7 linked regions of the Homo sapiens genome follow. The protein of the gene in region 1 purifies or fractionates together with the protein of each later gene. This does not show direct contact. Each region holds a gene or a part of one and is shown in the gene's direction. Other genes may lie near its edges.

Evidence for each region.
Region 2: the proteins of CCR6 (region 1) and LCLAT1 purify together in Homo sapiens (affinity purification with mass spectrometry; one large-scale study listed by BioGRID and IntAct). This does not show direct contact.
Region 3: the proteins of CCR6 (region 1) and GOLGA5 purify together in Homo sapiens (co-immunoprecipitation; 2 studies listed by BioGRID and IntAct, with this or other methods). This does not show direct contact.
Region 4: the proteins of CCR6 (region 1) and P2RX4 purify together in Homo sapiens (co-immunoprecipitation; one large-scale study listed by IntAct). This does not show direct contact.
Region 5: the proteins of CCR6 (region 1) and ATP9A purify together in Homo sapiens (co-immunoprecipitation; 2 studies listed by BioGRID and IntAct, with this or other methods). This does not show direct contact.
Region 6: the proteins of CCR6 (region 1) and PODXL purify together in Homo sapiens (co-immunoprecipitation; 2 studies listed by BioGRID and IntAct, with this or other methods). This does not show direct contact.
Region 7: the proteins of CCR6 (region 1) and TSPAN3 purify together in Homo sapiens (affinity purification with mass spectrometry; one large-scale study listed by BioGRID and IntAct). This does not show direct contact.

The regions. Positions count from the first base shown.
Region 1 is NC_000006.12:167,132,549-167,137,047, forward strand, and holds part of CCR6 (C-C chemokine receptor type 6), read left to right. Parts: intron 1-3,489; 5' UTR 3,490-3,586; coding exon 3,587-3,595; intron 3,596-3,691; coding exon 3,692-4,499. UniProt on the Homo sapiens protein: Receptor for the C-C type chemokine CCL20. Binds to CCL20 and subsequently transduces a signal by increasing the intracellular calcium ion levels.
Region 2 is NC_000002.12:30,526,547-30,531,272, forward strand, and holds part of LCLAT1 (lysocardiolipin acyltransferase 1), read left to right. Parts: intron 1-4,726. UniProt on the Homo sapiens protein: Exhibits acyl-CoA:lysocardiolipin acyltransferase (ALCAT) activity; catalyzes the reacylation of lyso-cardiolipin to cardiolipin (CL), a key step in CL remodeling.
Region 3 is NC_000014.9:92,800,805-92,804,304, forward strand, and holds part of GOLGA5 (golgin subfamily A member 5), read left to right. Parts: intron 1-3,500. UniProt on the Homo sapiens protein: Involved in maintaining Golgi structure. Stimulates the formation of Golgi stacks and ribbons. Involved in intra-Golgi retrograde transport.
Region 4 is NC_000012.12:121,226,619-121,231,344, forward strand, and holds part of P2RX4 (P2X purinoceptor 4), read left to right. Parts: intron 1-1,914; coding exon 1,915-1,995; coding exon of another isoform or gene 1,996-1,999; exon of another isoform or gene 2,000-2,010; intron 2,011-2,106; coding exon 2,107-2,248; intron 2,249-2,344; coding exon 2,345-2,481; intron 2,482-4,726. UniProt on the Homo sapiens protein: ATP-gated nonselective transmembrane cation channel permeable to potassium, sodium and calcium. CTP, but not GTP or UTP, functions as a weak affinity agonist for P2RX4.
Region 5 is NC_000020.11:51,760,665-51,765,390, reverse strand, and holds part of ATP9A (probable phospholipid-transporting ATPase IIA), read left to right. Parts: intron 1-4,726. UniProt on the Homo sapiens protein: Plays a role in regulating membrane trafficking of cargo proteins, namely endosome to plasma membrane recycling, probably acting through RAB5 and RAB11 activation. Also involved in endosome to trans-Golgi network retrograde transport.
Region 6 is NC_000007.14:131,501,758-131,505,412, reverse strand, and holds part of PODXL (podocalyxin isoform 1 precursor), read left to right. Parts: intron 1-904; coding exon 905-1,102; 3' UTR 1,103-3,655. UniProt on the Homo sapiens protein: Involved in the regulation of both adhesion and cell morphology and cancer progression. Functions as an anti-adhesive molecule that maintains an open filtration pathway between neighboring foot processes in the podocyte by charge repulsion.
Region 7 is NC_000015.10:77,052,884-77,057,609, reverse strand, and holds part of TSPAN3 (tetraspanin-3), read left to right. Parts: intron 1-1,354; coding exon 1,355-1,546; intron 1,547-1,746; coding exon 1,747-1,821; intron 1,822-3,330; coding exon 3,331-3,432; intron 3,433-4,680; coding exon 4,681-4,726. UniProt on the Homo sapiens protein: Regulates the proliferation and migration of oligodendrocytes, a process essential for normal myelination and repair.

The DNA.
Region 1 (4,499 bases):
GTGTGTGTTTTGGACGGAGTCTCTCTCTGTCACCCAGGCTGGACTGCAGTGGCGTAATCTCAGCTCATTGCAACCTCCGCCTCCCGGGTTCAACTGATTCTCCTGCCTCAGCCCCCCAAGTAGCTGGGATTACAGGAGCACGCCATCACGCCTGGCTAATTTTTGTATTTTTAGTAAAGATGGGGTTTCACCATGTTGGCCAGGATGGTCTCGAACTCCTGGACTTAAGTGGTCCGTCTGCCTCGGCCTCCCAAATTGCTGGGATTACAGGCCTGAGCCACTGTTCCCAGCCTTCATTGTGGTTTTAATTTGCATTTTCCTCATGATTAATGGCATTGAGCGTCTTTTTTGTGTGTGTATTTGCCATCCATGTATTTTCCTTGGTGAATTGCCTGTTCACATTTCCCCCTGTTTCTTATTGTTTATGTTTTTGATAGGGAGTTGTAAAAATTATTTGTATATTCTGGATATAACCTATTATCAGATATAAGCTTTAACATACTTTTTTCTATTCAATATATATATGTTTCACTTTCTTGAGTGTCTTTCAAAGAGCAGAAGTTTTACATTTTGTACAATCAAGTACAATTTATCAATTTTTTTACAGTTCATTCTTTTTGCAATTTATATAAGAAGCTTCTTTTTCCAGGGTCACAAAGATTTTCTCCCATTTTTCCTTCTAGATGTTTTATGCTTTAGCTCTCACATTTAGATTTATAACTCATTTGAGTTACCTTTTGCAAATGGTGTGAGGTAAGCAGTAAGGATCGACTTTTTGTTCATGTCATTCCAGGACCATTTACTGAAGACTGTTCTTTTCCCATTGAGTTACCTTGGCACCTAAGTTAAAAATCAGTCCGCCATCTATATGTGGATCTATGTCTGGCCTCTGTTCTGTTCCAGTGATTTATGTAACTGTCCTTTCAGAAATCCAACACCGTCATGGTTAGTGTAGTTCCTTGTCAGCTCTGAGACTGGGTAGTGTGAGTCCTCCATTTTTTTTTTATCTTTTTCAAAATTGTTTTGGCTATTTTAATTTCCTTGAATTTCTATAAAAATTTTGGAATTGACTTGTCAATTTCTCAAAAAAAAAACCCTACCATAATTTTGATTTAGTTTATGTTGTATCTACAGATCGATTTGGGGAGAAATTATATCTTGAAATTGAATCTTTGATAAATTTGAACATGAAATGTCATTGAAAATTGAACATGATAAATTTCTCCATTAATTTAGGTCTTATTTAATTTTTGCCAACAATGTTTTGTAGTTTTTAGCATATAAATCTCACATAAATTTTGTTAGAGCTATCCATAAGTATTTTACATTTTATGATACAATTGTATATATAATTATTGATACTATTATATATGATATATGTGTGTATATATATATATATATATATATATATATATATATATAGTTTTAACATCCAAATGGTAATTCCAATTGGTGTATTTTATTTTACATATTGTATATTTCACCTCCCATGCCCTCCACCCCTGCCATGCTCTGCAGCTTAGAAAGAGTGTGTATCATTTCTCACTGTATTTGTTCTCCTCCTGCCAGGATCCATAATCCTGTGATGCCTAGTGCCGAGGTCTGAAAATGGTTGTTACATTTTGTAGGTTTTTCTAGTTGTTTAATGCAGCAGGGTGCCTTTGGTCTCTGTTGATCCACCGTGGCTGGAAGCTGAAGTTTAGCAGTGGTGTTCTGATTGCTGTGCTTCTTCTGATTGATACGATTACCTCGTCACATGCTTTTGCAACACAGGGGTCTATACCACGCTTCTTCTGCATACTCTAAAGCACTCAACTGTATACCTGCTGGGATTACAAAAGTGCAGAGGTGACTCCATACCTTCCTCCAGCTTTTTAGGCCCAAAGCAGTGACTGAGGGGCAGTGAAGAACCGATCTCTAAGTTGTGACTCCAGGCATCAGGGAAGGAATGGGGTGGAGTAAATAATGAAATGAGAATCAAAATTATGTAAGAAATAGGTTTGGAAAATAATTCAGGGTGAACTTTGTGTTACATGGGCTTCCTCTCCAAAAGGTCAGTATCCACGTGGACTCGTAAGTGAGGACTGATATGACACAGTGTGGGGGCGAGGAGGGCAGTTCCACTTTCTCTGCCTGTGCACCTGGGGCTGCACTTCCCTAGCTGCTCCCGCTTGGCATGGCCAGGCCCACGTGGTGCGAGAGCAGGGAAAAGAGGAGGAAGATGGGCGATTGGCTGGGAAGCACATCCAACGTCAATATCAGAGCGTTTCAGGCCATGGATTTTACTGGGGGACGTCCAGGGCGTGTTAATAAACAGGATGATGGACAATGCTGGAAAGAAGGAGTGAGCCTGAGAATAGCGAAGGGTTTTTCTTTCTTTTTAAGTTTGCTTCAGATGGTGGATTTCAAAGCCCTTCGTCCTCAGGCGCTCCACAACCGCTCCAGCTCTTCCCGGTCTCCTGCTAAACTTCTTCAGCCTGGACCCATGCACCGCCACTGCTGGCGTTCCCAGCACACGGTATACTCCATTGTTTCCTGACAATCCAGTTGATTCGGCCAGGCTGGTTGCTCAGCTGTTTCACAAACATACAGGGCTCATGACTCAGGACTGCTCTTCAGCCTGAGACGAGCTGGTCACCTGAAGGAGATGGCGGTTCTCTGTCAATCATTGGCCCATAGCCTCACCATTCTCCAAGAACCCTGATCAGAGCCTCCTCCTCCAGGAAGTCTTTCCTAACTGTGCCAGCCTCCACCTTTCCTCTGGCATTTGGATTTCTGATGATTAGGATGCCTCTGCCACAGCAGATTCATGCTTGTGACCTGGAATGTCTACTGGAAAGGTCTGCGGCTGTGGAGAAGCAGGTGCATTCCTCTCCAGCGCCTTCCCAGGCTGGAGCAGCTTGTTCAGTGTGTCTTGAGAACAGCACTCATAGTCAAACTTTAAATTCTACTGGAGATTCTCACATGCCCACAGGGGTGATCATCACTGACATATATTGTGAACGATTTAAAGCCCGGGACTATGAATTATACATTTTCTATGCGCTTTCACACTTCTATAGATTTTGTTCAGTAAAATCTTGTTGAATGTTTTTAAATTTTGCGTAAAGATTTTTGTGCAGATCAAAACTTGTGGATTTCTGAGAGCACCTTATTTAACCAATAGATCAAGGGTTGGCAAATTATAGCCTCTAGCCAACGGACCCCGGCGAGGCCTGTTCAGTTATGTAATTGTAGATGCTTTCAAGCTCCAAAGGCAGATTTGAGGAGCTGTGACAGAGACCATATGGCCTGAAAAGCCCTAAAATATTTACTATCTGGCCCTTTACAGAAAGAGGTTGCTGATGCCTATTCTCAATGAATATTTGTATGTAAAATAGTGTGCTGTGCACTCTGTTCACACGAGATGGAATGCTGGTAACTTAACTGTCTGGCTCTCCAGGAATACCTGTGTTAACTGTAGTGCATTTTGCCTTCTTTCCTTCTTAGAGTCACCTCTACTTTCCTGCTACCGCTGCCTGTGAGCTGAAGGGGCTGAACCATACACTCCTTTTTCTACAACCAGCTTGCATTTTTTCTGCCCACAATGAGCGGGGTAAGATTTTTATTTTTGGCAAGGGGTATAATTTGGGTTCACTGTGGCTACTTGAACACTACACTGCAGCTAACTCTATCTTTGTTTCCTTTCCAGGAATCAATGAATTTCAGCGATGTTTTCGACTCCAGTGAAGATTATTTTGTGTCAGTCAATACTTCATATTACTCAGTTGATTCTGAGATGTTACTGTGCTCCTTGCAGGAGGTCAGGCAGTTCTCCAGGCTATTTGTACCGATTGCCTACTCCTTGATCTGTGTCTTTGGCCTCCTGGGGAATATTCTGGTGGTGATCACCTTTGCTTTTTATAAGAAGGCCAGGTCTATGACAGACGTCTATCTCTTGAACATGGCCATTGCAGACATCCTCTTTGTTCTTACTCTCCCATTCTGGGCAGTGAGTCATGCCACCGGTGCGTGGGTTTTCAGCAATGCCACGTGCAAGTTGCTAAAAGGCATCTATGCCATCAACTTTAACTGCGGGATGCTGCTCCTGACTTGCATTAGCATGGACCGGTACATCGCCATTGTACAGGCGACTAAGTCATTCCGGCTCCGATCCAGAACACTACCGCGCAGCAAAATCATCTGCCTTGTTGTGTGGGGGCTGTCAGTCATCATCTCCAGCTCAACTTTTGTCTTCAACCAAAAATACAACACCCAAGGCAGCGATGTCTGTGAACCCAAGTACCAGACTGTCTCGGAGCCCATCAGGTGGAAGCTGCTGATGTTGGGGCTTGAGCTACTCTTTGGTTTCTTTATCCCTTTGATGTTCATGATATTTTGTTACACGTTCATTGTCAAAACCTTGGTGCAAGCTCAGAATTCTAAAAGGCACAAAGCCATCCGTGTAATCATAGCTGTGGTGCTTGTGTTTCTGGCTTGTCAGATTCCTCATAACATGG
Region 2 (4,726 bases), on another chromosome or scaffold:
GATGTCTAGTACCTTTTACTCTGTCAGGGCCAGTCTTTTAGGCAAAATTTCTTCTTGCTTTTTTAATATAAGTATGCTTTGTTTTGTGATTGGATTGCAAGAGTAGTTGGCAGGATCTCTTAATGTTCATCCAGCAATTTTTTATTGTCTACCACGTACCTAGCATTTTGCTAGGATGCAGTGATGAACAGGACAGATATGATCTCTGTCCTTGAGGAGATAATAGTCCTCTACCTAAAATATCTTATCCTAATTGTAGATTTACAGAGCTTGACTAATTTCTTTTCTGGCTTTCATGTGACTAAAAGTCTTTTTCTTTTTTTAGAGGACAGAAGTTGACTTCTAAGACTATTAATTTTTAGAGTTACATTTTTAAATTAGCTTTAAAGATATGAAGCCCAGTGTTTCATTGCAACCCTAAACATACCATTTGCCATAAAATACTCATTTTTTGTTGCTGCTTAACCACTATCACTCTCTATTTACAAGGTGGGTATTTCTCTATATACATATATTAAGTAAAATAAGAATACTGTTCAGTTTATGTAATATTAATCATCACAAGTAGATACTTCTAAAACGTCATCTACAAACTGTATGTTAAGTAATTTTGCTGTCATCATAAAATCAGAGACATTTCCTATTGAAACATTTGACTGTTTTCATGTCATTTATGTAACTATTTTTAGTGTTTGTTTCATCATCTGTAAAATAAAGAAATTGGAGTAAATGATCTTTGAGATCTATTCTGGATTCAGAATTGTATATCTGATTGTAAAGCAAACATTCAGAGGTAAAAGATTTTTTGTAACAGTCATGTATTGTTACTGTACTCCATTTTCTAAATGTCATCAGTTTTCTATAGTATATAATCCTTTAATTATGAACCACACATTTTTGTTGAATCTTTCTGCCAAAACCTTGAGAGTTCTGAGAATTGGTAAAAATTACTACAGTTGTAATGCTTTACAGTGTCCAGTCACTCTAATTTTTGGAGAGCGAGCATAAGCAGAGTGCTTATTTTCACAGACATTGCAGACAGATATTTGGTTTCACTATTGGCCTTCCCACTTTCTAGTCATTTGAACTTGGCTAAGCTCCTTAGCCTCATTGTAAGCTTTTGTTTCTTCATCTCTATAAAAAGGAGTCTTAATACTACCTACTTACATCAGAGAGTCATTGTAATGACTAAATGAGGTAATAAATATATAGCCTTTTTAGTATAATGCTTGCCATTTGGTAAGTACCCGGTAAATATTTGGTATTATATTAATTTTAGTTTTAGTTTTAGTTTTGCTTTTATATTAATTTTAGGCTAAACTGGTGTTTTGGAGAAAATTCAAAATATAGTGGCTCCAATACAGTAGAACTATATTGACTTACAGGTCCAGGCTGGCAAGGTCCCTACGGTCCCTGATGTCATCAAAGGGTTCAGATGTCTTCTATCCTGTTAATCCACCTAGCTTGGCCTCCAGCCTGGTATAATGTCCTCTTGTATTTGGTCAAGACTGGGTCACTGCCACTTCTTTGCCCCACTCTGGAGGAAGTCCAGAGCAAATGCTTTCTTTCTATACCAGTGACTCACGTGTGTAGTACATAGCAAGTTGCACATATCACTTTTGCTTACTCTATTGGTAAGAGCAGCTAAAAGCTGTAATAGAATCTGGGAAATGTCTTTTTTTTCTGGGCAGCCATGTGCACAGTTAAAATTCTTAATCTGGAAGAAATGCTGGTATTTATAGGACAAGTTACCAAACAAATTCTGCAATAGCTATTTCTGCTATTATTACTGCTAGTAGCATTACTATTACTGCAGAATTACATTATACACCTACAGTATTTGTACAGTTTCAATTACATGCACTAAGGTAAGGGAAGAGTGGGCAGAGAAGAGAATGAATTTTTTTCTGCTTCATGTGAGATGAAATAGGAAATATGAGTGGTTCTCTGCTGAGTGTGATTCTTGTGTTTAAAGATAGATATTTTTAAACAATATACAAACCAATCACTTTGTCTGATGGTCAGGTAGGGTAATATCAATATAGTACAATTTTGGGAGAAGATTGGCTGAGCTGGACTTACTGATAGTGTGATCTTTTGAGATGCACCATCCTATGAGATTTTCAAAGATAATTTCACCTATTCCTAACTTTTGTCTTATTAGCTGTTTGGACAGTTTAACACATGGGTAAGATTTAACTACCACAGTACTAGTAAAAAATTAGTATACATTTGGAAAACTGCTGTCACTCAGCTGTTTAGTTTACTAGTTACAGCATATCAGACAGAGAAAGTTTTTTTAGTTAAGAAATGTATAGATGTTGAATTCCTTATAGCTAGGTTACAGAAAAATTGATATTCTAGTTTTGAGATAGTGAACATCTCTGTTGAAGGAAACAGAGAAGAACCATCAAGGGTGTCTTTTATCACCTTTTATCTCATACTCGTACAAGGAGCTAAAGGAGTTTTTAAGCAATAATAAAATATATTCTTTTTAAATTCAGAGTGAATTTAATCTAAAAGCTTTTCTTCTATCCCTTATTGATGTACTTTATTTTAAGCAATCCCAAACAGTTAAAAATAATTTTCCACTAAAAATAAATTAGGATAAATGCACTTAAACTAATTATTGCTTCACAAAAATAGTCACAAAATGATCTTCTCTTTCATTAAGTTTCTCTTGTGGATTAAAATGATTTTGTTGGCAAGATTTTTCTTGTCTTACTATTTTTAAGGAGCACATTTCTGTGCTAAAAGAGGCATAGCAGTGAAATGTTTTAGAATCTTAGATGAGACTTAGAGGTCACTTTGTCTAACCTAACTCTGTGGGCAAGAATCCGTTCTAGAACTATCTGCAGGGTGACCATTCAGTCTTTCTTTGAATGTTTCTATAATTCGGAGTGCATGCCTTTGTTCCTTTTATTTTTGGACCATTCTGTTCAACATAATGAATATTGTAAGGGTCAAACTCAGCATGTGCTCAGAGCAGTTTTTGCTTCTCAAAATTCTAACTAACCGACAGTCTGATTACTACCTGGGATTATGAAAATTACTGGAGTTCTGTCCTTTCACCATAAATCATGCCTTAGGAATTTAGAGGTCATTTTCTAACTGTCTACCCAGGGCACAAGTTTCTTCCACAGCCTTCTGATACCATTCCAGTCCTAGCACAAAACAGGTGTTGAATAAACATAGATTGCTGAATGTGATTTTTGTCTACACTGTTGCTCTTAACAAAGTGGGTGCTCAGTGTTTTGAAGAATGAGTTGGGATTGCAAAGCCTCAAGTAGCTAGGGATTTGGAGAACCAGACCTAATCTGAGCCTGAAAAGCAAAAGCAGACATGGAGATGAGTTGTTATTACCTCAGACTAAGTAAAGATCCATCAGAATGATAAATGAGAGTGAGAGCAGCGGGCATGATGGTAAAACTTTCTCTGTGATCTTGAGAGGAACCACTCTCATCTTTGTGTTTTTATACACAATGGAACACTTGGACATAGTAAGTAGTGGTATATAAAAGATCCTTGGAAAATGCTTCCATATTTCTGTTAAATAATACACAGAGAAATCTTTGACCAATTAGGTAAAAATTATCAGAATTGTTACTCTTCAATATAAGAAACAATGCATTATAAAATTTTGTTAGATTTATTACTGTTGACACTATTATCTCCTATACTAGCAATAAAATAAACATGAGAAATGTGAGAATAGTGTCTTTTTTCCCAGTCTTTTAGTCTGGATTAATTGAATTCTGGAGTTCTGTATAGATATTACAGCTTTATTTCTGTGTAGTATATTTGTTTTTCTGCCTTTGCAGGAGCTGTAAATAAGGTTGACTGGATATGTCTCATCTGGTATTACAACCAATTAATGTGGACTTGAGATCTTGGCTGCCCAAAGGTTATTTATAACTTTCAGGCATATTCTGGTAGAATGCTGGATGTCAAGGGAGAGGATGTCATGTTATATGAGATGTTCCTGGACACATGGTCTTGATTGTTGTTGTTGTTGCTTTTTTGGAGACTACATTCTCTTGCCCAGCTGGAGTGTAGTGGTGCAGTCAGATCTCACTGTAACCTGAAATTCCTGGACTCGAGTAATCCTTCTGCCTCAGCCTCCTGCGTAGCTAAGGCTCTGGGCATGTTCCACAATGCCTGGCCTTTAAAAATTTTTTGTAGAGCTGGAGTCTTGCTATGTTGCCTAGGCTAGTTTCAAACTCCTGGCTTCAAGCGATCTTCCTGCCTTAGCCTCCCAAAGTGCTGGGATTACATATGTGAGCCACCACACCCATCCCAGTCTTGGATTTTTTATGTTATTTTTCATAATGAAAAGCAAAGGATTGTTTGGGATCTATAGGTATCATATATTAGAGATTGCATATATAGGTTTAGATTTGAGGTTTGGAATTTATAGGCTTAAGATTTTTAACTCTTGGCCGGGCACGGTGGCTCATGCCTGTAATCCCAGCACTTTTGGAGGCCAAGGCGGGCGAGTCGCAAGTTCAGGAGTTCAAGACCAGCCTGGCCAACGTGGTGAAATCCTGTCTCTACTGAAAATACAAAATATTAGCTGGGTGTGGTGGCGGGCACCTGTAATTCCAGCTACTCGGGAGGCTGAGGCAGGAGAATCACTTGAACCCGGGAGGCAGAGGTTGCAGTGAGCCGAGATCGCGCCACTACACTCCAGCCTGGGCGACAGAGTGAGACTCCGTCTCAAAAGAAA
Region 3 (3,500 bases), on another chromosome or scaffold:
TATTTTTGTACTTTTAAAGAAAGCAGCTTGCATTTAATTAGAAAGAATGGACCTAAAGGGAACCTCGTTGTCAGGGAAATGAATTAGAACTGGTTATAATACACAGGAGTTATAAAAATTGTTTCTCTTGGGTAGGACCTCTCAACCTTGAGACTTGGTGTTTTGGGCCAAATTAATTCAATAGTGTGGGAAGCCCTCCTGTTCTTTGTAGGATGTTTAGCAGCATCTCTGGCCTCTTAGCCCATTAGGTGGTAGTAGCACCCCCAATTGTGACAACCAACAATGTCTCCACAAATTGCCAAATGTCCCTTGCAGGGCAAAATCATCCCAGTTGAGAACCAATGTCCTGAGATGCCTAGAAATGTGTAGAAATGGGATTGCTGAGCTGTAGGGTTTAACAATGTTCAGCTACACTAGTAATGCCAAAGTGGCTTTCTGCAGAGGTTGTGCCAATTTATACTCTAACCAGCTATGGTTAAGAACTTCTTTTGCTCCACATTTTCACCAACATTTTTTATTTTCAATTTGACTTTTTACTTTTTGCTGATCAGATTTGTCGTTGATATTATTTCCTTCATTACTAGTGTGGTTGAAGATCTTTTCAGATATTTGACTATTGAACTTTCATTTTCTGGAAGTGTCAAGTCTTTTTTATCAACTTTTTTCTGTTAGATTATTTGTCTTTTTTCTTCTTGATTCATAGACATTCTTTATATATTCTAAATTCTAAATTCTTTTCCTCCTCCAGTTTTACCTTGGTTTTTCCCCTCCCCTCTGTCTATGGCATCTCAATGAATAGAAGTTCTTAATGTAGATGGCATGTGGCTTGTGTTTTTTGTGTCTTGGAAAATCTTTCCTTACACTGAGATCATAAAGATATTTTTCTGTATTGTCTTCTATAGTGTGCGATAGGCATTCAATTCCCTTTTTCTTTTTTTTTTTTTTGCCATAGGGAAATCAGCTATTCTAGCATCATTTATTGAACAGAGTCTCTTGTCCCTACCAATTTGCAGTACCACCTGTCTTATATATCAAGTATTCATTAGTGTGTTTCTGGCCACTTAATTCTGTTTTATTGGTTTATTTGTGTATCCTTGTGCCAGTGCCACCCTGTTTTAATTAATGTAGTTTTATGTGTCTTGATAACTGATAGGGTAGCTTCTTCCACCTTGTGGTCTTTCTTCAGAAATGTTTTGGCTGTTCATGGACCTTTCCACTCCTGTATGCATTTTAGGATTTGCTCATCAAGTTTCACAGAAACTCTGTTGGTCTTTTTATTGGGAATTAATTGCTTCTATATAGACAGTTTGGTGAGAGTCAGCACTTTTGCTATACTGAGTTTTCTTATCCACCAATGGGATATAATTTCAACATATTTTGTAGTGTCTTTCATTAAAATTTTATTGTTTTCTCCATAAAGATCTTATATACTTTATGTTAGATTTATTCCTAAGTAGTTTATATTTTTTGAAACAATTATATGTGGTATTCCTTAAAATGTTTTGCTTTGTTATTGCTGGTGTATTTTTTGTTGTTTTTTTGTGTGTACATACATAGCAATCTAGATGGCTCTTAATCTTCATGTTTTTCTGGACATAAATTTAGATTTTCAACAACACAATTATCTGTGTATAATGACAGTTTGTTTCTTCTTAGCCCTTTTATCTTTTAAAAAATCCTTTTCTTCATTGGCTAGGACTCAACGACCAGTTTTGTATCTTGTTCTTTGTCTTAGAGGGAATACTTTGTTTCACTAAGTATGATTTTACATTAGGTTTTTTATAGTTTTTTTATTTGTTTAAGGAAGTTCCCATAAATGTCTAGTTTGAGGTTTTATCATGTTGAATTTTAGCAATGTTTTTTCCTCTACCCTTGGAGATAATATAGTTTTTCTTCTTTAATATTAATATAGTATACAAATCAATTTATTTATTTTTAATAAATCAATTTATTTATTTATTTTTAATAGAGATGGGATCTTGCTGTGTTACCCAGGCTGGAATGTAGCGGCTATTCACATGTATGATCATAGTGCACTGCAGCCCCAAACTCCTGGCTCAAGTAATCCTCCCACTTCCTCCTCCCAACTCACTGGGATGCAGGTGCACACCACTGCACCTAGCTCCAGCTCCAGTTGATACTTTTAAATATAAAACCAAACTTAACTTTCAGTTTGCTAATATTCCCTTTAGGATTTTTGCATTTATTTAGTTAATTTAATTTTTATTTATTATTATTTTTATTATTTTGAGACAGGATCTCACTCTGTCGCCCAGGTTGGAGTGCAGTGGTGGGATCTCAGCTCACTGCAGCCTCAATCTCCCAGGCTCAAGCAATCCTCCCACCTCAGCCTCAATAGTAACTGAGACTGCAGGCACACACCGCCATGCGTAGGTAATTTTGTTCATTTTTTGTAGAGACAAGGTCTCACTATATTGCCAGGCTAGTCTTGAACTCCTGAGCTGAAGGGATCCTCCTGTGTTGGCCTCCCAAGTGCTAGGATTACAGGCATGAGCCACCACACCTAACCTTTTGCATTTATTTTATAAGCGAAATCGGCCTGCGATATTGTTAGGTTTTAGTATTACAGTTATATTAGCCTTATCAAATGAATTGGAAAGTATTCCTTCTTTTTCTGTTGTGTTAATTAATTGGTGTAAGACTGAGATTATTTATTTCCTGAACGTTTGCTAGAACTCTGTGCTAAAACCATCAGGACCTGGGGTATTCTTACTGAAAGGTTTTAACTATTGATTCAGTTGGCTTTTCATTTCTTCTTGAATCTGTTTTTGGTAAGTTACGTTTTTTTCCCCAAGAATTTGTCAATGTCATACACATTTTGAGGGGTTATACTTATTTAATTTCAGGAAAATAATGTAGGGGTCACAGCTGAAACTTTCAACGCAACCAAACATTAGTTATTCATACCAACCCTGCAAAAACCAATGCTTGATCATGCATACTGTGTGAAGAATATCAGTATCTGGCATATATTGAATCCTTACCCTGTTTCTGGCACTGCACTAAATGCCTGCTTTTTAAAACAGCTTTAATGAAGTATAATTCACATGCAATAAACTGCACGATAAGTATTGTGCAATTGATAGATTTCAGTATCTTGTACATTTTAAAATTTGATGGCCTAATGTTGTTTATATCTGTCCCAGGGAACCACTTTTGGTTATGCTGATCCTCTCTAGTATGTTTATTTCCTCTTTTGTTAATTTTTGCTTTCTTTGGGTTTGTTCTGCTGTTTTTATAGTTTTTAAGATGGATATACAACTCATTAGTTTTCTTCCTTCCTGCCTTTCATCTTTAATGTAACCAAGGCTATAAATTTCCTTCAGAATACTGCCTTAGATATCATCCCACATTTGGATATATACTTAATTTATTTTTTGAATTTTAATATTTTATTTTTTATATTATTTAAAAATTTTTTGTAGAGACGAGTTCTCACTGTATTGCCCGGGCTGGTCTCCAACTCCTGGACTCAGGCA
Region 4 (4,726 bases), on another chromosome or scaffold:
GCCACAGAATTGTCCAGTTTAAAATGGTTAATTTTATGTTATGTGAATTTCATCTCAATTTCTCTAAAAAGGTGAGTTGATCTTAAAGTATTACATGTGAGGTACACAGGTGTGTGTGTGGGTGTTACGGTACAGGAAATGACAAAAACTTGAACACCCCTGTTGTAAGCCATCCCTCTTGAGGGAGTGGGGACTTTGAAGACCTGAGAGAAGTCCAGGCACAGTGGCCCATGCCTGTAATCCCAGCACTTTGGGAGACCGAGGTGGGTGGATCATCTGAGGTCAGGAGTTTGAGACCAGCCTGACCAACATGGTGAAACCCCATCTCTACTAAAAATATGAAAAAATTAGCCAGGCGTGGTGGTGCACGCCTGTAACCCCAGCTACTCGGGAGGCTGAGGCAGGAGAATCACTTGAACCCAGAGGTTGCAGTGAGCCGAGATCGCGGCATTGCACTCCAGCCTGAGCAACAGGAGCAAGACTCCATCTCAAAAAAAAAAAAAACCTGAGAGAAGCCCCTTGGTCCCAGCCTTTCTCTGACAGCAGTGGTGACAGGCTCAGCTCTCCTCCGAGTGCAGCCCTGTCACTGACCTTGCTCCTGTCTCAGGGCTGGGAAGACTGTTGATGTTGTCATTCCAAAGATCCCACCTGGATCAGGGGAACATCCCCCACAGAAGGGTTAGCCATACAGTGCCAGATTCTCCAGGAGAAATTCACCAAAGAAATGGAGTCCCCTTGGGGACAGATTCAACTTGTATTGTCAGCCAGGAGCTGACGTGGCACTTCTGAGAAGAGGCCGGCGCACCTGCTGGCGGGTGCTTTGTGCACTTTTCAGACAGGTCAGGATCCAGCCTGTAGGCAAATTTACTTTTGCTTTGACCTGTAAAACCGGATCTGCCCAGCCTTCATTCTCTCCCTGGAGAACGCCTGCGGCCCCAAAGCCAGGCCTACTGATTTCCAGTGAGGCCACAAATCCCCTCCCTGGTTAGCAATTCAGTTTTCACCGCCTTGGGGGAGAGGGCCTGCCCTTCCTTGAGGGGAAGAACCTGGAAGGCTCGGCTCAGTGTCTTCTCTTGGAAGAGAAGAGTGTGCATGCAGAAGGGTGTAGAAAATGCTAGACGTGTTTCATCTTCTTGACAAAATGACATTGTAAGATGTGTGTATATGTTTTTAAAAATATTACATAGGGGCTGAACATGGTGGCCCACTCCTGTAGTCCAGCACAGGGAGGCGGAGGTAGGAAGATTGCTTGAGGTCAGGAGTTCAAGACCAGCCTGGGCAATGTAGGAAGACTTCATGTCTACAAAAAAAAAAAAAAAAAATTTCATTAGCCAGGCATGGTGATGCATGCCTATAGTTCCAGCTACTTGAGAGGCTGAGGTGGGAGAACCCCCTGAGCCTGGGAGGTCGAGGCTACAAGAAGCTGTGTTCATGCAACTGTACTCCAGCCTGGGCAACAGAGCAAGACCCTGTCTCAAAAATATATATAGGCTGGGCGTGATGGCTTATGCCTGTAATCCCAGCACTTTGGGAGGCTGAAGCAGGCGGATCACTTGAGGCCAGGAGTTGGAGACCAGCCTGACCAACATGGTGGAACCCTGTCTCTACTAAAAATACAAAAAAAGTTAACCAGGCATAGTGGCTCACACCTGTGTAATCCCAGCTACACGGGAGGCTGAGGTGGCAGTGAGCTGAGATCGCGCCATTGCACTCAAGCCTGCACTCGAGGTGACAGAGTGACTCCATCTCAAAAAAAAAAAAAAAAAAATATATATATATATATATATACACACACACACACACAGACACACACACACAATACATATATATATGTGTGTATATATATATATATAACATGGTTATGTGAGTATTTGTATGTATTTTATTAACAGTAATGTTATCATTGTTTTTCAGACCTGCTTTTTTAAAGGCTGCAGAAAACTTCACTCTTTTGGTTAAGAACAACATCTGGTATCCCAAATTTAATTTCAGCAAGTAAGTGGTGGCCAGGTGTGTGAGTTCACCAGGGTCTTGGAGAAACTTCTGGCTCTTCTCTCTTCTCTGAGGTTTTCGTCGCTCTGATTTTCTGCTTCCTCTCGACTTTAGGAGGAATATCCTTCCCAACATCACCACTACTTACCTCAAGTCGTGCATTTATGATGCTAAAACAGATCCCTTCTGCCCCATATTCCGTCTTGGCAAAATAGTGGAGAACGCAGGACACAGTTTCCAGGACATGGCCGTGGAGGTGGGTGCGGGCCCTGGCTCTCCTGACCCAGCCCTGGAGGCGTCTCGTGCCAGGTGCTGAGGAAAGCCTTGCCGTGTCTCTGCTGCTCATCCCCAGGGAGGCATCATGGGCATCCAGGTCAACTGGGACTGCAACCTGGACAGAGCCGCCTCCCTCTGCTTGCCCAGGTACTCCTTCCGCCGCCTCGATACACGGGACGTTGAGCACAACGTATCTCCTGGCTACAATTTCAGGTGGGCGTGAGCTTGGGCCCCTCGCTCATGTTGTAGGGGGTGCTGGTGGCTGCGTACGTGCCAGTGGGCCGCCCACTGAAGACCAGCACTCAGGCAGCACCCCAAGGGCAGGCTGCCGGTCCCCCGTCCAAGGCGGCGGGAAGGCCATGCTGGGAAAATGCCCTTAGTGGTGTCCTGCTCCGGGGCCATCCCGGCCCCCGAGACCCCTCCTTGCCCTTTCCTGCCGCAAGAAACATGTTGAGATGGTTCTTAGAGCAGCCAGGAGAAGCTGGGGGCTTAAGCTTTCCAGCACCTGCCTCAGCCATGACCTCCATTCACTGCCTCAAGGAGCGGATGATCTTGTGATCCTCCAGTCCAAAGGCCTCTGGGGCCTGGCCCAGGAATTGGTTTCTCAAAGGTTGAACCTGTGCCAGAATCTCCAGAGTGCAGGGGACACAGGTCTGAGGCCCCTGAAAGGCCTTGCTGGGTTCCCTGCTGCAAATGCTGGCATCTCGGTGTCCTGGGGCAGATGTAAGCGAGTCCCACAAACAGTGGCTTGCAACTACAGGACTTGATTCTCTCACAGTTCTCACAGTTCTAGAGGCCACAACCTAAAATCCAGGCATCAGCAGGGCTGTGCTCGCTCTGAAGGCTCTGGAGAGAGTCCTTACTTGTCTCTCCTGGCTTCTGGTAGCCCACGGTGTTCCTTGGCTTGTGGATGCATCACTCCAGTCTCTGCCTCTCCTGTCATGAGGCCTTCTGCCTTGTATGTGTCTCTGTGTCTTTTCTTCTTGTAAGGATATCAGTCACTGAATTTAGGGCCCACCCTACTCTAGTATGACCTCATCTTAACAAATTACGTCTGCCAATATCCCATTTCCAAATAAGGTCACACTCCCAAGCTTCAGGTAGATGTGAATTTTTGGGGACACACTGTTCAACCCACTACAGCTGATGATCTCATGATCAGAATCTATAGCCAGGTAAATTTCCACGTACCCTTTGTTGCATTTTTCACAGTCCTTAAAAAGGAAGCGCTCCAGGCCGGGCGCAGTGACTCACACCTGTAATCCTAGCACTTTGGGAGGCCAAGGCGGGCAGATCACCTGAGGCCAGCATGGCGAAACCCCATCTCTACTAAAAAAAATACAAAAATTAGCTGGGCATGGTGGCGCATGCCTGTAATCCCAGCAACTTGGGAGGCTGAGGCAGGAGAATCGCTTGAGCCAGGGAGGCAGAGGTTGCAGTGAGCCGAGATCGCACTGCTGCACTCCAGCCTGGGCGACAAAGCAAGTCTCCGTCTCAGGGGGAAAAAAAAGAGGCCCTGCAAGGACCATCCCTGGGCGCGGTCAGCGGTGCTTTGGGCTGCACTTGCCTCCCCCTAGTGGTGACGTGTGGAATCCGATCCATACGGGATCCTAAGACCTCTGTAATTGTGGGATCTGCTGTCCTTTTGAACCTTCTGGCTCACTGAGTAAAGCAGATATTTGAATTTTTCTTTTCTAGCAGTTAGATTTGTGTTATTCCATCTCTACTGTCACACACTTCTTGTGGAAACCTCAAGCTTAGGTCAGAGCCCTAAAACGGAAAGAACTCAGGACGCCTATCCCCCAACCTCGGGCAGCACCAGGCCCTGCCTGTGTCTCCCAGGCCTGGCCCATGGCGTGGAAGTTGTGGGCCAGATAGAGCATGGAGCTAGGGTGCGGGCCGAGGCTCCTGATGGATCCCTGGAGAACATGGGGCAGCAGATGGTATGTCTTGACGGTTCTTCACCAACCATCCATCCCCTGCTCATGCGTGTGCGCTCTCTCGCGTGCTCGCTCTCTCTCTCTCTCATATATGTATATGTATATATGTGTATATATATATATAGCCATTATATATATAGCCATTATATATATATATTTTTTTTTTTTTCTTCTTTTTTAAGGGAGTGACTTGCTCTGTCACCCAGGTTGGAGTGCAGTGGTGCGATTTCAGCTCACTGCAGCCTTTGCCTCCCGGGTTCAAGACATTCTCCTGCCTCAGCCGCCTGAGTAGCTGGGATTACAGGCGCCCGCCACCACACCCAGCTAATTTTTTGTATTTTTATTAGAGACGGGGTTTCTCCACATTGGCCAGGGTGGTCTCGAGCTCCTCACCTCAAGTGATCCACCTGCCTCGGCCTCCCAAAGTGCCGGAATTACAGGTGTGAGCCACCGCACCCAGCCATATATTTTTAAATGGTCTTACTGAGATGCAATTCACATGCCATACCGTTCACACA
Region 5 (4,726 bases), on another chromosome or scaffold:
GAGCCACTGTGTCTGGCCAATCTATTTCTTAAACAGTGACATGGATTTGGATTCAAATTGTGTATCAGGGTTGCTGTGCATTTGCGTAAATGCTCTTGTATATAATCTGCATTTTCAGGAGTAGCAACATCAAGGTGGAATCCTGAAGTTTAGAAACTCTTGAGAAGCACAGAGAGATGGAGGAGCTTCCTGAAATAGAACTAGGGGCTGGGGGATGGCAGCGTGAGGGCTAAAGTGGGTGGGTGGTTAAAGGAAGAAAAAAGTAATATGTAATGGGTCAGGCTGTCTGCTGGACACTTGAGATAAATAGGGCTGTTTTAATCCTTACAACAACCATGTGAGTTTTTGGAGTTAATTCTCCCATTTTAGGGGCCAGATGTGGTGGTTCAAGCCTGTAATCCCAGCACTTTGGGAGGCCAAGGTGGGCGGATCACTCGAGGTCAGGAGTTCGAGACCAGCCTGGCCAACATGGTGAAACCCTGTCTCTACTAAAAATACAAAAATTAGCCGGGTGTGGTGGTGGTGCCTGTAATTCCAGCTACTGGGGAGGCTGAGGCAGGAGAATTGCTTGAACCCAGGATGTGGAGGTTGCGGTGAGTCAGGATTGTACCACTGCACTCCAGCCTGGGTGAAGAAGCAAGACTCCATCTCAAAAAAAAAAATTCTCCCATTTTATTGACAGGGAAACAAAGATTCACTGATATTAATGTGTTCGTGGTCTTGGAGGTTGTGAGAGGAGGCAGTTTTGAACCGGATCCACCCATTTCACCTAATGGTTCTAGGCAATAAAGCTGTGGAATGGTTGGAAGATTTGTGGTTAAAAAAACCAAAAACGATGCCACATGTCATAGGGGACAGAATGCAGTTATTTCTGGGGTCACTCAGCGAATGTTGCGAAGACGTGCAGCTTATTTTTGGAGGAATCTCCTGGCTTCAAAGTTCTTTTCTCTCTTGAGAAAGTTACCACATCCTGATGTTGAGAAAACTTTTGAAATGGTGTAGTTAGGAAACAAGGCATTTCACCTCCATTGCTGGAAACCATTTTATGACATCATGCCCTTTGCTTATGGCTGAATGGAGCTCCTCTTGTGGTGAAATGGCAGGGATTATTTGTTAGGAGCCAGGACGCAGGAGTCCATTGAGGAGCTGGGTTCACACCCAGGCTCTGCTGCTTACTAGCTGTGTGATCTTGGGAAAATAACTTTACCTCTCTGAGTCTCAGTTGTTTCATCTGTAAAATGGGAATATCAATAATTATGTATCTCATAGTTTTTTAGTCCATGTAAAGTTTAGGAGAATAAGTGCTCAGTATGCCTTAGGTGTTTACTAGGGCTAATGGTAATCCTTAGGTGTTTGCATGAGGTTTACCGTTGGGGTCTACAGTGTGCTTCTTTGAGAGGAGGGGCCTTTTATGAGAAATTTAGAAATATGAATTTCACTGCTTTTTCCTGATCAAATTTAGGAAAATGAATAACTATGTAGAGCATTCTGTCCAGGTATGTCGAGGCCCTGGTGTGATGTTGTGGCAAGGATGGGAGCTTAGGTACCAGGTGGCCCAAGACTTTGCCTCATTGTAACAATCTACGTTTTGTGGGTGGCCACACTGGATGAGGATGCTTTGATGCTTGATATATTTGGATTTGGGGGACTAGGAAGTTTTGAATATGAATCAGATTGAGAAAGAAGAACTGAATAGATATGTTGTCTACCACAATGTTTTAAACAGCTTTATTGAAGTATAATTTATATAGCATACATCTATTGAAAGTATGTAAACTGGCCAGGTGCGGTGGCTCATTCCTGTAATCCCAGCACTTTGGGAGGCCAAGGTGGGCGGATCAGGAGGTCAGGAGATCCAGACCATCCTGGCTAACACAAGTGAAACCCCATCTCTACTAAAAATACAAAAAATTAGCTGGGTGTGGTGGCGGGCACTTGTAGTCCCAGCTACTCAGGAGGCTGAGGCAGGAGAATGGCGTGAACCCAGGAGGCAGAGCTGGCAGTGAGCCGAGATCGCGCCACTGCACTGTAGCCTGGGCGACACAGCGAGACTCCATCTCAAAAAAAAAAAAAAAAGTATGTAAACCATTGATTAAAAAAAAACCAGGTGTATGGAGTTATGCAACCATCACTCCGGCATGGGTTTTGAATGTTTCCATCACCTCCGAAAGTCTCCTCCAGCCCATCTGCAATTCATCCCTGCCCTTGCCCCAGTCCCAGGCAACCAGTGATCCGCTTTCTGATTCCATAGGTTTGCCCTTTCTGGAAATTGTCTATCAATGGAATCACACCACGTGTTGCCTTTTGTGTCTGGCTGCTTTAATTTAGCATGAAGTTTTTGAAGTTTCTTTTTATTGTGTAATAGAATTTCAGTTGGGCTTGGTGGCTCACACCTGTAATCCCAGCACTTTGGGAGGCCCAGGCAGGAGGATTGCTTGAGCCCTGGAGTTCAAGAGCAGCCTGGGCAACATAGTGAAACCCTGTCTCTACAAAAAATAAATAATAATAATAAAAAAAGCCAGGCATGGTGGCTTGAGCCTGTGGTCCTTGCTACTTGGGAGGCTGAGGTAGGAGGAGTGCTTGAGCCCAGGAAGCGTAGGTGGCGGTAAACCCTGATCATACCGCTGCACTCCAGCCTCGGCAACAGAGTGAGACCCTGTCTCAAAAAAAAAAAAAAAAAAAAAAGCCATTTGTGGATATATCACCTTAAATCTTTTTGTTTGTTTGTTTTTAGACAGGGTCTCGCTCTTGTCACCCAGGCTGGAGTGCAGTGGCATGATCTCTACTCACTGCAACCTCCACCTCCCGGGTTCAAGCGATTCTCATGCATCGGCCTCCTGCGTAGCTGGGATTACAGGCTCCCGCCGCCACGCCCAGCTAATTTTTTTTTTTTTTTTGAGACAGAGTCTTGCTCTGTCACTAGGCTGGAGTGCAGTGGTGTGATCTTGGCTCACTGCAACCTCTGCCTCCCGGTTCAAGCAGTTCTCCTGCCCCAGCCTCCGGAGTAGCTGGGACTACAGGCGCATGCCACCACGCCCAGCTAATTGTATTTTTAGTAGAGATGGGGTTTCACCGTGTTGACCGAGATGGTCTCGATCTCTTGACCTCATGATCCGCTCACCTTGGCCTCCCTAAGTGCTGGGATTACAGGCGTGAGCCACCATGCCTGGCCTAATTTTTGTATTTTTGGTAGAGACGGGGCTTCACCGTATTGGCCAAGCTGGCCTTGAACTCCTGACCTCAAGTTATCTGCCCACCTTGGCCTCCCAAAATGCTGAGATTACAGGTGTGAGCCACTGACCCTGGCCCGGCCCAGTGTTATCACAGGGTCCTTAAAAGCGAAAGACAGGCAGGAGAGTGAGTGTCAGCATAAGAGAAAGATTGGGAGAGGCTGCACTGCTGGCTTGAAGAGGGAAGAAGGGGCCATGAGCCAAGGAATGCGGGGGACTCTAGAAGTTGGAAGAGTTAAGGAAACGGACTCGGTTGGAGCCTCCAGAAGGAACACGGCTCTGCTGACACCTTCCTTGATTTTAGTCCCATGAGGCCCATTTTGGACTTCGGACCTAACTGTAGGGTAATAAACTTGCATTGTTTTAAGCCACTCAAGTTGTGCTAATTTTTTTTTTTTTTTGAGGCGGAGTCTCGCTCTGTCGCCCAGGCTGGAGTGCAGTGGCGCAACCTTGGCTCACTGCAAGCTCCGCCTTCCGGGTTCGCGCCATTCTCCTGTCTCAGCCTCCCGAGTAGCTGGGACTACAGGCGCCTGTCACCACGCTCGGCTAATTTTTTGTATTTTATTAGAGACGGGGTTTCACCGTGTTAGCCAGGATGGTCTGGATCTCCTGACCTCGTGATCTGCCCGCCTTGGCCTCCCAAAGTGCTGGGATTACAGCCGTGAGCCACGGCGCCCGGCCAAAGTTGTGCTAATTTGTTACAACAATGAGGAGAAGCTGTCACACACCGATGTGTGCTGCAGACCCTGGGAACGGATTGTCGTGCTCCTCTTTCCATCCCACAAAGGGGACTGGAATCTAGACAGGAAGCCCGCCACCTGGGTGGAGGCATCAGAGGCATTTCAGAGGTCCTACATTTTGCCTGAGAGCATAGAGCTTATGTCAGCATGTTTATGTGACTCATTATCTGACGGTGGAGGAAAAAGATGAATATTTATTTAGGACCTGCAGTGTTTTGGCTCTGAACTCATGTTTCCTCTTTCATGCTGCACAATGGCCCTTTGATGTTGGTAATTTTTTTTATTCTTGCTTTACTGATAAGGAAACAAAAATGCCCTTTCTCTTTGATGTGATGGAGGTGGTGTTAGGTAGGACTCTCATTACTCTCAGGACTTACATTCTTGTTTTTTATTTTGAGACGGAGTCTCACTCTCACTCAGGCTGGAGTGCAGTGGCGCAGTCTCGGCTCACTGCAACCTCTGCCTCCTGGGTTTAAGCAATTCTCTGCTTCAGCCTCCCAAGTAGCTGGGACTACTACAGGCCTGCGCCACCACCACGCCCAGCTAATTTTTGTATTTTTAGTAGAGACAGGGTTTCACCATGTTGACCAGGATGGTCTTGATCTCTTGACTTTGTGATCCGCCTGCCTCGGCCTCCCAAAGTGTTGCGATTACAGGCGTGAGCCACTGCACCTGGCATTTTTTTTTTTTTTTTTGAGACGGAGTCTTGCTCTGTCGCCCAGGCTGGAGTGCAGTGGCGTGATCTTGGCTCACTGC
Region 6 (3,655 bases), on another chromosome or scaffold:
AGCCTCCCAAAGTGCTGGGATTACAGGTGTGAGTCACCACGCCTGGACTGGAGTCAGGGAGACTTGGTTAGTCCTGGCCCTGACCTTGAGGAAGTCAGTCAGATGAGCTCTTTGGGCATCAGGTTCCTCATCTGCACAGCAGGGATAACCTCCTTGCAGAGCTGGTCTGAGGATTCATTGATAGAAGCAGGCCTAGGTGTTCTGTCTAACCAAAAATTCTTCTGCCTACCTTACTAGAATTCTCGCCATGATGGTGCCACCCAGACCCTGTGGTTCTCACTCCTGCCTGCACACCGTGGGGAACTTTAGAAAAATTCCCTTGCCTGACTGCCTCCCACACCAATTCAAACAATCTCTGAGTCCATCAGTGTAGTTGTTAAAAGCTCCCCAGGTGATTCTAGCATACACTCAAGGTTGTGTTTGAGAGGGACAGAAAGCGCCTCTGCCAGATGGCTGCTGTCTGCCGCAGGGATGATTCTAGAGACACCGTACCCATCCTGCCCAGGCTTGAGGGCTCAGTCACCCAGCCCGAGAGAGGTCATTTTTTAATAGTGTTTTTCCCATTCATTATGATAGGTGAGGTAGGTGCCTGGAGAGGAGGTTTTGGGGGAAGGGATGAAGGGGAGGAGAGAGCTTAGAGGACTCTGGAGAACAAAGTCCATCTCCACTAACTTCACAGGTTCTGCCACCAGGGTGAGGGTGAGGGGCAAGTCTTTGTTCCCAACTAGTTCCGGGCAGGCTGAGAGCCAGAATGACCACCAGGAGCAGCCAGCCCCACAGGCGAGCAATGAGGGCCTGCTTTAGCTACAGTGGGGCTCCTGAGTGGGAGGGGTACGTACATGCGCTGTATTAAGCTCAGAGCCCTCTGAAACCCCCTTCTCACCGGTCACCTTCCCCACTCTAGCAGCGGCTAACAGAGGAGCTGCAGACAGTGGAGAATGGTTACCATGACAACCCAACACTGGAAGTGATGGAGACCTCTTCTGAGATGCAGGAGAAGAAGGTGGTCAGCCTCAACGGGGAGCTGGGGGACAGCTGGATCGTCCCTCTGGACAACCTGACCAAGGACGACCTGGATGAGGAGGAAGACACACACCTCTAGTCCGGTCTGCCGGTGGCCTCCAGCAGCACCACAGAGCTCCAGACCAACCACCCCAAGTGCCGTTTGGATGGGGAAGGGAAAGACTGGGGAGGGAGAGTGAACTCCGAGGGGTGTCCCCTCCCAATCCCCCCAGGGCCTTAATTTTTCCCTTTTCAACCTGAACAAATCACATTCTGTCCAGATTCCTCTTGTAAAATAACCCACTAGTGCCTGAGCTCAGTGCTGCTGGATGATGAGGGAGATCAAGAAAAAGCCACGTAAGGGACTTTATAGATGAACTAGTGGAATCCCTTCATTCTGCAGTGAGATTGCCGAGACCTGAAGAGGGTAAGTGACTTGCCCAAGGTCAGAGCCACTTGGTGACAGAGCCAGGATGAGAACAAAGATTCCATTTGCACCATGCCACACTGCTGTGTTCACATGTGCCTTCCGTCCAGAGCAGTCCCGGGCAGGGGTGAAACTCCAGCAGGTGGCTGGGCTGGAAAGGAGGGCAGGGCTACATCCTGGCTCGGTGGGATCTGACGACCTGAAAGTCCAGCTCCCAAGTTTTCCTTCTCCTACCCCAGCCTCGTGTACCCATCTTCCCACCCTCTATGTTCTTACCCCTCCCTACACTCAGTGTTTGTTCCCACTTACTCTGTCCTGGGGCCTCTGGGATTAGCACAGGTTATTCATAACCTTGAACCCCTTGTTCTGGATTCGGATTTTCTCACATTTGCTTCGTGAGATGGGGGCTTAACCCACACAGGTCTCCGTGCGTGAACCAGGTCTGCTTAGGGGACCTGCGTGCAGGTGAGGAGAGAAGGGGACACTCGAGTCCAGGCTGGTATCTCAGGGCAGCTGATGAGGGGTCAGCAGGAACACTGGCCCATTGCCCCTGGCACTCCTTGCAGAGGCCACCCACGATCTTCTTTGGGCTTCCATTTCCACCAGGGACTAAAATCTGCTGTAGCTAGTGAGAGCAGCGTGTTCCTTTTGTTGTTCACTGCTCAGCTGATGGGAGTGATTCCCTGAGACCCAGTATGAAAGAGCAGTGGCTGCAGGAGAGGCCTTCCCGGGGCCCCCCATCAGCGATGTGTCTTCAGAGACAATCCATTAAAGCAGCCAGGAAGGACAGGCTTTCCCCTGTATATCATAGGAAACTCAGGGACATTTCAAGTTGCTGAGAGTTTTGTTATAGTTGTTTTCTAACCCAGCCCTCCACTGCCAAAGGCCAAAAGCTCAGACAGTTGGCAGACGTCCAGTTAGCTCATCTCACTCACTCTGATTCTCCTGTGCCACAGGAAAAGAGGGCCTGGAAAGCGCAGTGCATGCTGGGTGCATGAAGGGCAGCCTGGGGGACAGACTGTTGTGGGAACGTCCCACTGTCCTGGCCTGGAGCTAGGCCTTGCTGTTCCTCTTCTCTGTGAGCCTAGTGGGGCTGCTGCGGTTCTCTTGCAGTTTCTGGTGGCATCTCAGGGGAACACAAAGCTATGTCTATTCCCCAATATAGGACTTTTATGGGCTCGGCAGTTAGCTGCCATGTAGAAGGCTCCTAAGCAGTGGGCATGGTGAGGTTTCATCTGATTGAGAAGGGGGAATCCTGTGTGGAATGTTGAACTTTCGCCATGGTCTCCATCGTTCTGGGCGTAAATTCCCTGGGATCAAGTAGGAAAATGGGCAGAACTGCTTAGGGGAATGAAATTGCCATTTTTCGGGTGAAACGCCACACCTCCAGGGTCTTAAGAGTCAGGCTCCGGCTGTAGTAGCTCTGATGAAATAGGCTATCCACTCGGGATGGCTTACTTTTTAAAAGGGTAGGGGGAGGGGCTGGGGAAGATCTGTCCTGCACCATCTGCCTAATTCCTTCCTCACAGTCTGTAGCCATCTGATATCCTAGGGGAAAAGGAAGGCCAGGGGTTCACATAGGGCCCCAGCGAGTTTCCCAGGAGTTAGAGGGATGCGAGGCTAACAAGTTCCAAAAACATCTGCCCCGATGCTCTAGTGTTTGGAGGTGGGCAGGATGGAGAACAGTGCCTGTTTGGGGGAAAACAGGAAATCTTGTTAGGCTTGAGTGAGGTGTTTGCTTCCTTCTTGCCCAGCGCTGGGTTCTCTCCACCCAGTAGGTTTTCTGTTGTGGTCCCGTGGGAGAGGCCAGACTGGATTATTCCTCCTTTGCTGATCCTGGGTCACACTTCACCAGCCAGGGCTTTTGACGGAGACAGCAAATAGGCCTCTGCAAATCAATCAAAGGCTGCAACCCTATGGCCTCTTGGAGACAGATGATGACTGGCAAGGACTAGAGAGCAGGAGTGCCTGGCCAGGTCGGTCCTGACTCTCCTGACTCTCCATCGCTCTGTCCAAGGAGAACCCGGAGAGGCTCTGGGCTGATTCAGAGGTTACTGCTTTATATTCGTCCAAACTGTGTTAGTCTAGGCTTAGGACAGCTTCAGAATCTGACACCTTGCCTTGCTCTTGCCACCAGGACACCTATGTCAACAGGCCAAACAGCCATGCATCTATAAAGGTCATCATCTTCTGCCACCTTTACTGGGTTCTAAATGCTCTCTGATA
Region 7 (4,726 bases), on another chromosome or scaffold:
TTAAAAATTGCCTTCATTATTCTAGTTGTCTTCTCACTTTAAAAAGTTCATGTTACATTTTAAAAAATCAAATTACTTTCCCAAATTTACATAAATGGAGTCTTTTTCTTCCTCATCTGACAGTGATCCTAATGGCCTAGTGTAAAAAAATATACTGATGATCCCCAAGCTTACTGAATTTCATAAACTTAAATGATCTGGGTTTTCAGGTTCAGAGAAGTTAATGATATTTCCAGTATCACTGTGGCAGCTGTTTCTAGTTTGAAGATGATTTATATGTTAAATTTTAAAGGATGATGAAATACTTCTTGTGAAAGTTTCAAAGTACTCTACAAATGATAACTCATTGTTATCCAAGTGATAACCAAATGTTTTAACACTTACTCTGACACTGCATTTGCTTGTTTGTATATGAGCCAGTGGCATTGGGCTGTCAGCACAGAGCTGGTACCCAAAGATAGCAAAATTGACAATAGCGGAGAAAGTAAGACTCTGCAGCTGGAGAATGATGCCTGGAGCAGCAGCTGAAATAAGACACACCTATCACTTGTCTTTGTGTGTTCACTTTCCCTTTAGGTCTTTAATACCTTGTTACTCAGAGTGCGCTCCAAGAAGAAGCTGCACCAGCATCACCTGGGAACTTGTTAGAAATGCAGACTCTCAGGCTCCTCCTCAGACCTCCTGAATCAATCTGCTTGTTATTCAGATCCTCAGGCAATTCCTATTCACTTCAAAGTTTGAGAACCACCATTCTAAAGAATTGATAGAGGACTTGCAGTGTTCTTTAATGACTGAGCCCTCTAGCTTTGCCATTTCACTGTCTCTAGGACAGCAAGATTTTTGGAAGTGGGGTGGGTATCATGCTTACTAGTTGGTGTATTTTCTTTTCCTTGAGGTGGGGTAGATAGAGATTAGAAGTGTAGATTCTGGAGTCAGATTGCCTGAGTTCAAATCCAAGCTCTGTCATTTCTACCAAATTTCCCCACTTATTGAGGGCAACTGTAGTGAGCAAAGATCCCCCTACCACCATACTGATCCGTATTGGATGTGGAATTGAGCTACAGTAAGCCTTTAGGGATGTGTAGGTGTGTGTCATCATCATTGTTATTATTTGGTTATGGTTTCTTGGTCCTAGCTGAACCATCAATTCGTGAAAAGTAGGTGAAGTGTGGATAACTTTTTAATTTTATCTAGTATAGAAATGCTCTTAACAAGGAATCATAGAATTTTCAGCTTTACTGAAAAAAGTCTATAACAGTTACGGTAACTCTCATTAAATTATACCATACTAAGCAATAATAGGAAATTTTTACCAGCAGTGCTTAGAGACCAGTACTGACTTTGTTTTCTACAGGGGGCAGCTGGCATTTTATGCTATGTGGGAGCCTATGTCTTCATCACTTATGATGACTATGACCACTTCTTTGAAGATGTGTACACGCTCATCCCTGCTGTAGTGATCATAGCTGTAGGAGCCCTGCTTTTCATCATTGGGCTAATTGGCTGCTGTGCCACAATCCGGGAAAGTCGCTGTGGACTTGCCACGGTAAGATGTGTTGTGAGAACATGCAGGAGTATTTAGTCTATGCTACTCTCCTTGAACATGAGACTCCTTGGCTCTTATAGTTGGAACAGAGTTAACATTTAAACTTCTAGCAATTATCTCTGATAACTTTTTTTAAATCAAGAGTGTATTTAAAGTTATTTTTTCATTTGTATATAATTTTAAACCATGTTTTCTTACAGTTTGTCATCATCCTGCTCTTGGTTTTTGTCACAGAAGTTGTTGTAGTGGTTTTGGGATATGTTTACAGAGCAAAGGTATGTTGTCTACTGTAATTCACATAATGCCTTAAAAGGTGGTTTAAGTGTTTCAAGTAAAATAGAACACATTCATTTTATCAGAGTAAACATTTTCTTTTGCCTTACTTGTTTAATCTGTATTTCAAATATCTAAAGTTAATTGGCAAATATTTACATGTCAAGACTCCTTACCTCATTTAATATAGCAGAGTGTTATATATGTATTGTTCTTGATTATAGGTATTTATAGCTGCAAATGAATAATTAGCTGAGAAGTTTGTTCAGATTTCCTCAGCACACAGATTGCCTATATGAGGGGAGGCATAATTTTCTGATTTCTGCTTTAGAAGAACCAAACTCAGAATTGCGTTTTCCATTGTCTCTTTAAAAAATGCTTTGGTCCTAAACATAGAAAAAGGTGTTGTGAGTTGTGATCCCACCTTCCACCCCTGTCCTGAGGAACAAGGGGTCCTGCCAACTTAGAACACCAAGGCAGCTGGTGCCAGCACTCCTTTCTTGCCCTTCATTCTTTTTAATCATTTCACCGTTCCTTCCTTTCTATTTTGCCTGATTTTGCTGTCTACCTGTAGTACTACTTAAGGCTAAACAGGCTGCTTTAAATTAATTAATATGGGTATAATTTTAGAGGCATGGTAAAGACATAATAGACTCATTCTCATTATAACTTAATGGTTTTGAGTCAAGGGCATAATATGCCAAGTTAATTTTCAGATCATTGATACGTAAGGTACTGTAAAGCTGTGCTAAAAAAAAAATGCAATGGATTATGTCCCTACCTATGATCTGGTTATCAATTTTATGGACTTATGATATTACTGTTGTAATTACCAGATAAGTCCAGTCCTCCGAGGGGTAAGGAGGATCTGGTACAAGCAAACTTTACTAAGTGATACTTGCTTGCCATTTTAGTAATTGGCAGCAATAAGCTATGAAGCTTGTTTCCTGTCTCCTTTTTGCAATACATTGAACAGTAGCTTTTTCATAAAGTGCCATTTCTAAGGACTGATTTTTTTAAACCTGCCGATTACTTTTGCACATTTAGCCAACTCTAAACGTTGAATAAATAAAATGGAAATAATGTTGGCATTTGTCCTAAAAGTATCTTACAGGAGCTTCAGAGTTACTTTGTTTTACCTCCTTTAGGAAAGGAAAATGAGTAACTTATTTGTAAAAGGAAGGCATCCATTTATAATTTAGGACATCTATCCCAAGCCTCAACTTTTCTCCCTTTTGAATACATTGTTAGCCTGCCATTTTGCACACAATCTTCTCTTTGAATGCTTGAATGTATGTGGTATATGTCTGAATTTTTACCTGTCACTTTTCTCCCTCCTGCCTTCATCTATATCTATATGAAGATGAAGGCAGGAAGGGAGAAAACTTTACAGGAAATTCATAGATATCTGGCAACTTGCAAACATTTCATTTAAGTATTTTAGTAGGAGCCTTGACTAATGTTACTTTTACTAGTATTTTTGAGGGACTGAATTCTTTGTTCTGATTCAGGTGGAAAATGAGGTTGATCGCAGCATTCAGAAAGTGTATAAGACCTACAATGGAACCAACCCTGATGCTGCTAGCCGGGCTATTGATTATGTACAGAGACAGGTGAGCTTTCTTGAGGCAGATTTGTTTTTGAGGACCAATCACGATTGGGTCAACATTAAACTAACTGCTATTTCTGTGTAAATTAGCCATGTTTCTTCACATACATGGCTATCCTGATGTGACCAATATTTTTCCCCAACCTTCACCCTTGAAAAGTTTATTTCATCACCTAGCCAGATGAGAAACATCTTGAACTTTTTTTTATCATCTGATTTCCCCTTCCCTGACCCCAGTCTGTACTCTCCCAAAGTACTTAGCCAAAGGGGTGATGACGCAAGAGAGAGGTATGTGTCACAGGAAAGGTGGGAGTCCAGATTGACTCCAGGGGAGGTGGGAGGTCTATATATACCTTTAGAAAACAAGATAAGAAAAGGCAACAGAAAAACTGTCAAAAAAAAGTTGTTATGGACAGTCTGATACACACAAAGGTAGAAAGAATAGTGTAATAGATGTTTGCACCCCGACCTTGCCTCAGTAATATCAACTTTTCGTCAGTCTTATTGCCCCTACTTACTTTTTGCTTCATTATCTTAAAGCAAATCTCAAAATTTTTAAGACCAAATATTTTAAATACTTTGTCATTGGAAATAATATTTAACATGGAACCAGATATTTAACATGTAAGACATGAAGATTTTCCTTAGTTAGAAACTACCGCTTATAGGCAATGTACTTTTCTTTTCTTTTTTTTTTTTTTTTTTTTTTTTTTTTTTTTTTTTTTTTTTTGAGATGGCGAAATTTCACTCTTGTTGCCCAGGCTGGAGTGCAGTGGCGCGATCTTGGCTCACTGCAACCTCCACCTCCCGGGTTCAAGTGATTCTCCTGCCTCAGCCTTTGTATTTTTAGTAGAGACGGGGTTTCACCATGTTGGTCAGGCTGGTCTTGAACTCTTGACCTCAGGTGACTCGCCCATCTCGGCCTCCCAAAGTGCTGGGATTACAGGCGTGAGCCACTGCACCCGGCCTGGCAATGTACTTTTCATATGGAGATTCTGGAGCCACTAGCCATGTCTGGCTGTTTACATTAAAATTTAAAATGCAGTTTTCTAGTCACACTAGCCACAATTTAAGTGCTCAGTAGAGCTTCATGTGGCTAGTGGCTGCTATATTGGATCATGCAGACTTTCCATTATAGAAAGTTGTATCGGACATCACTGGTCTAGAGTAGCTTATTTTAAAGCTCTGTAGTACATGGAACTTCAGGTATTTGGTTTTTGTGAGAAATAATACTTATTCTCTTCTCCTTTAGCTGCATTGTTGTGGAATTCACAACTACTCAGACTGGGAAAATACAG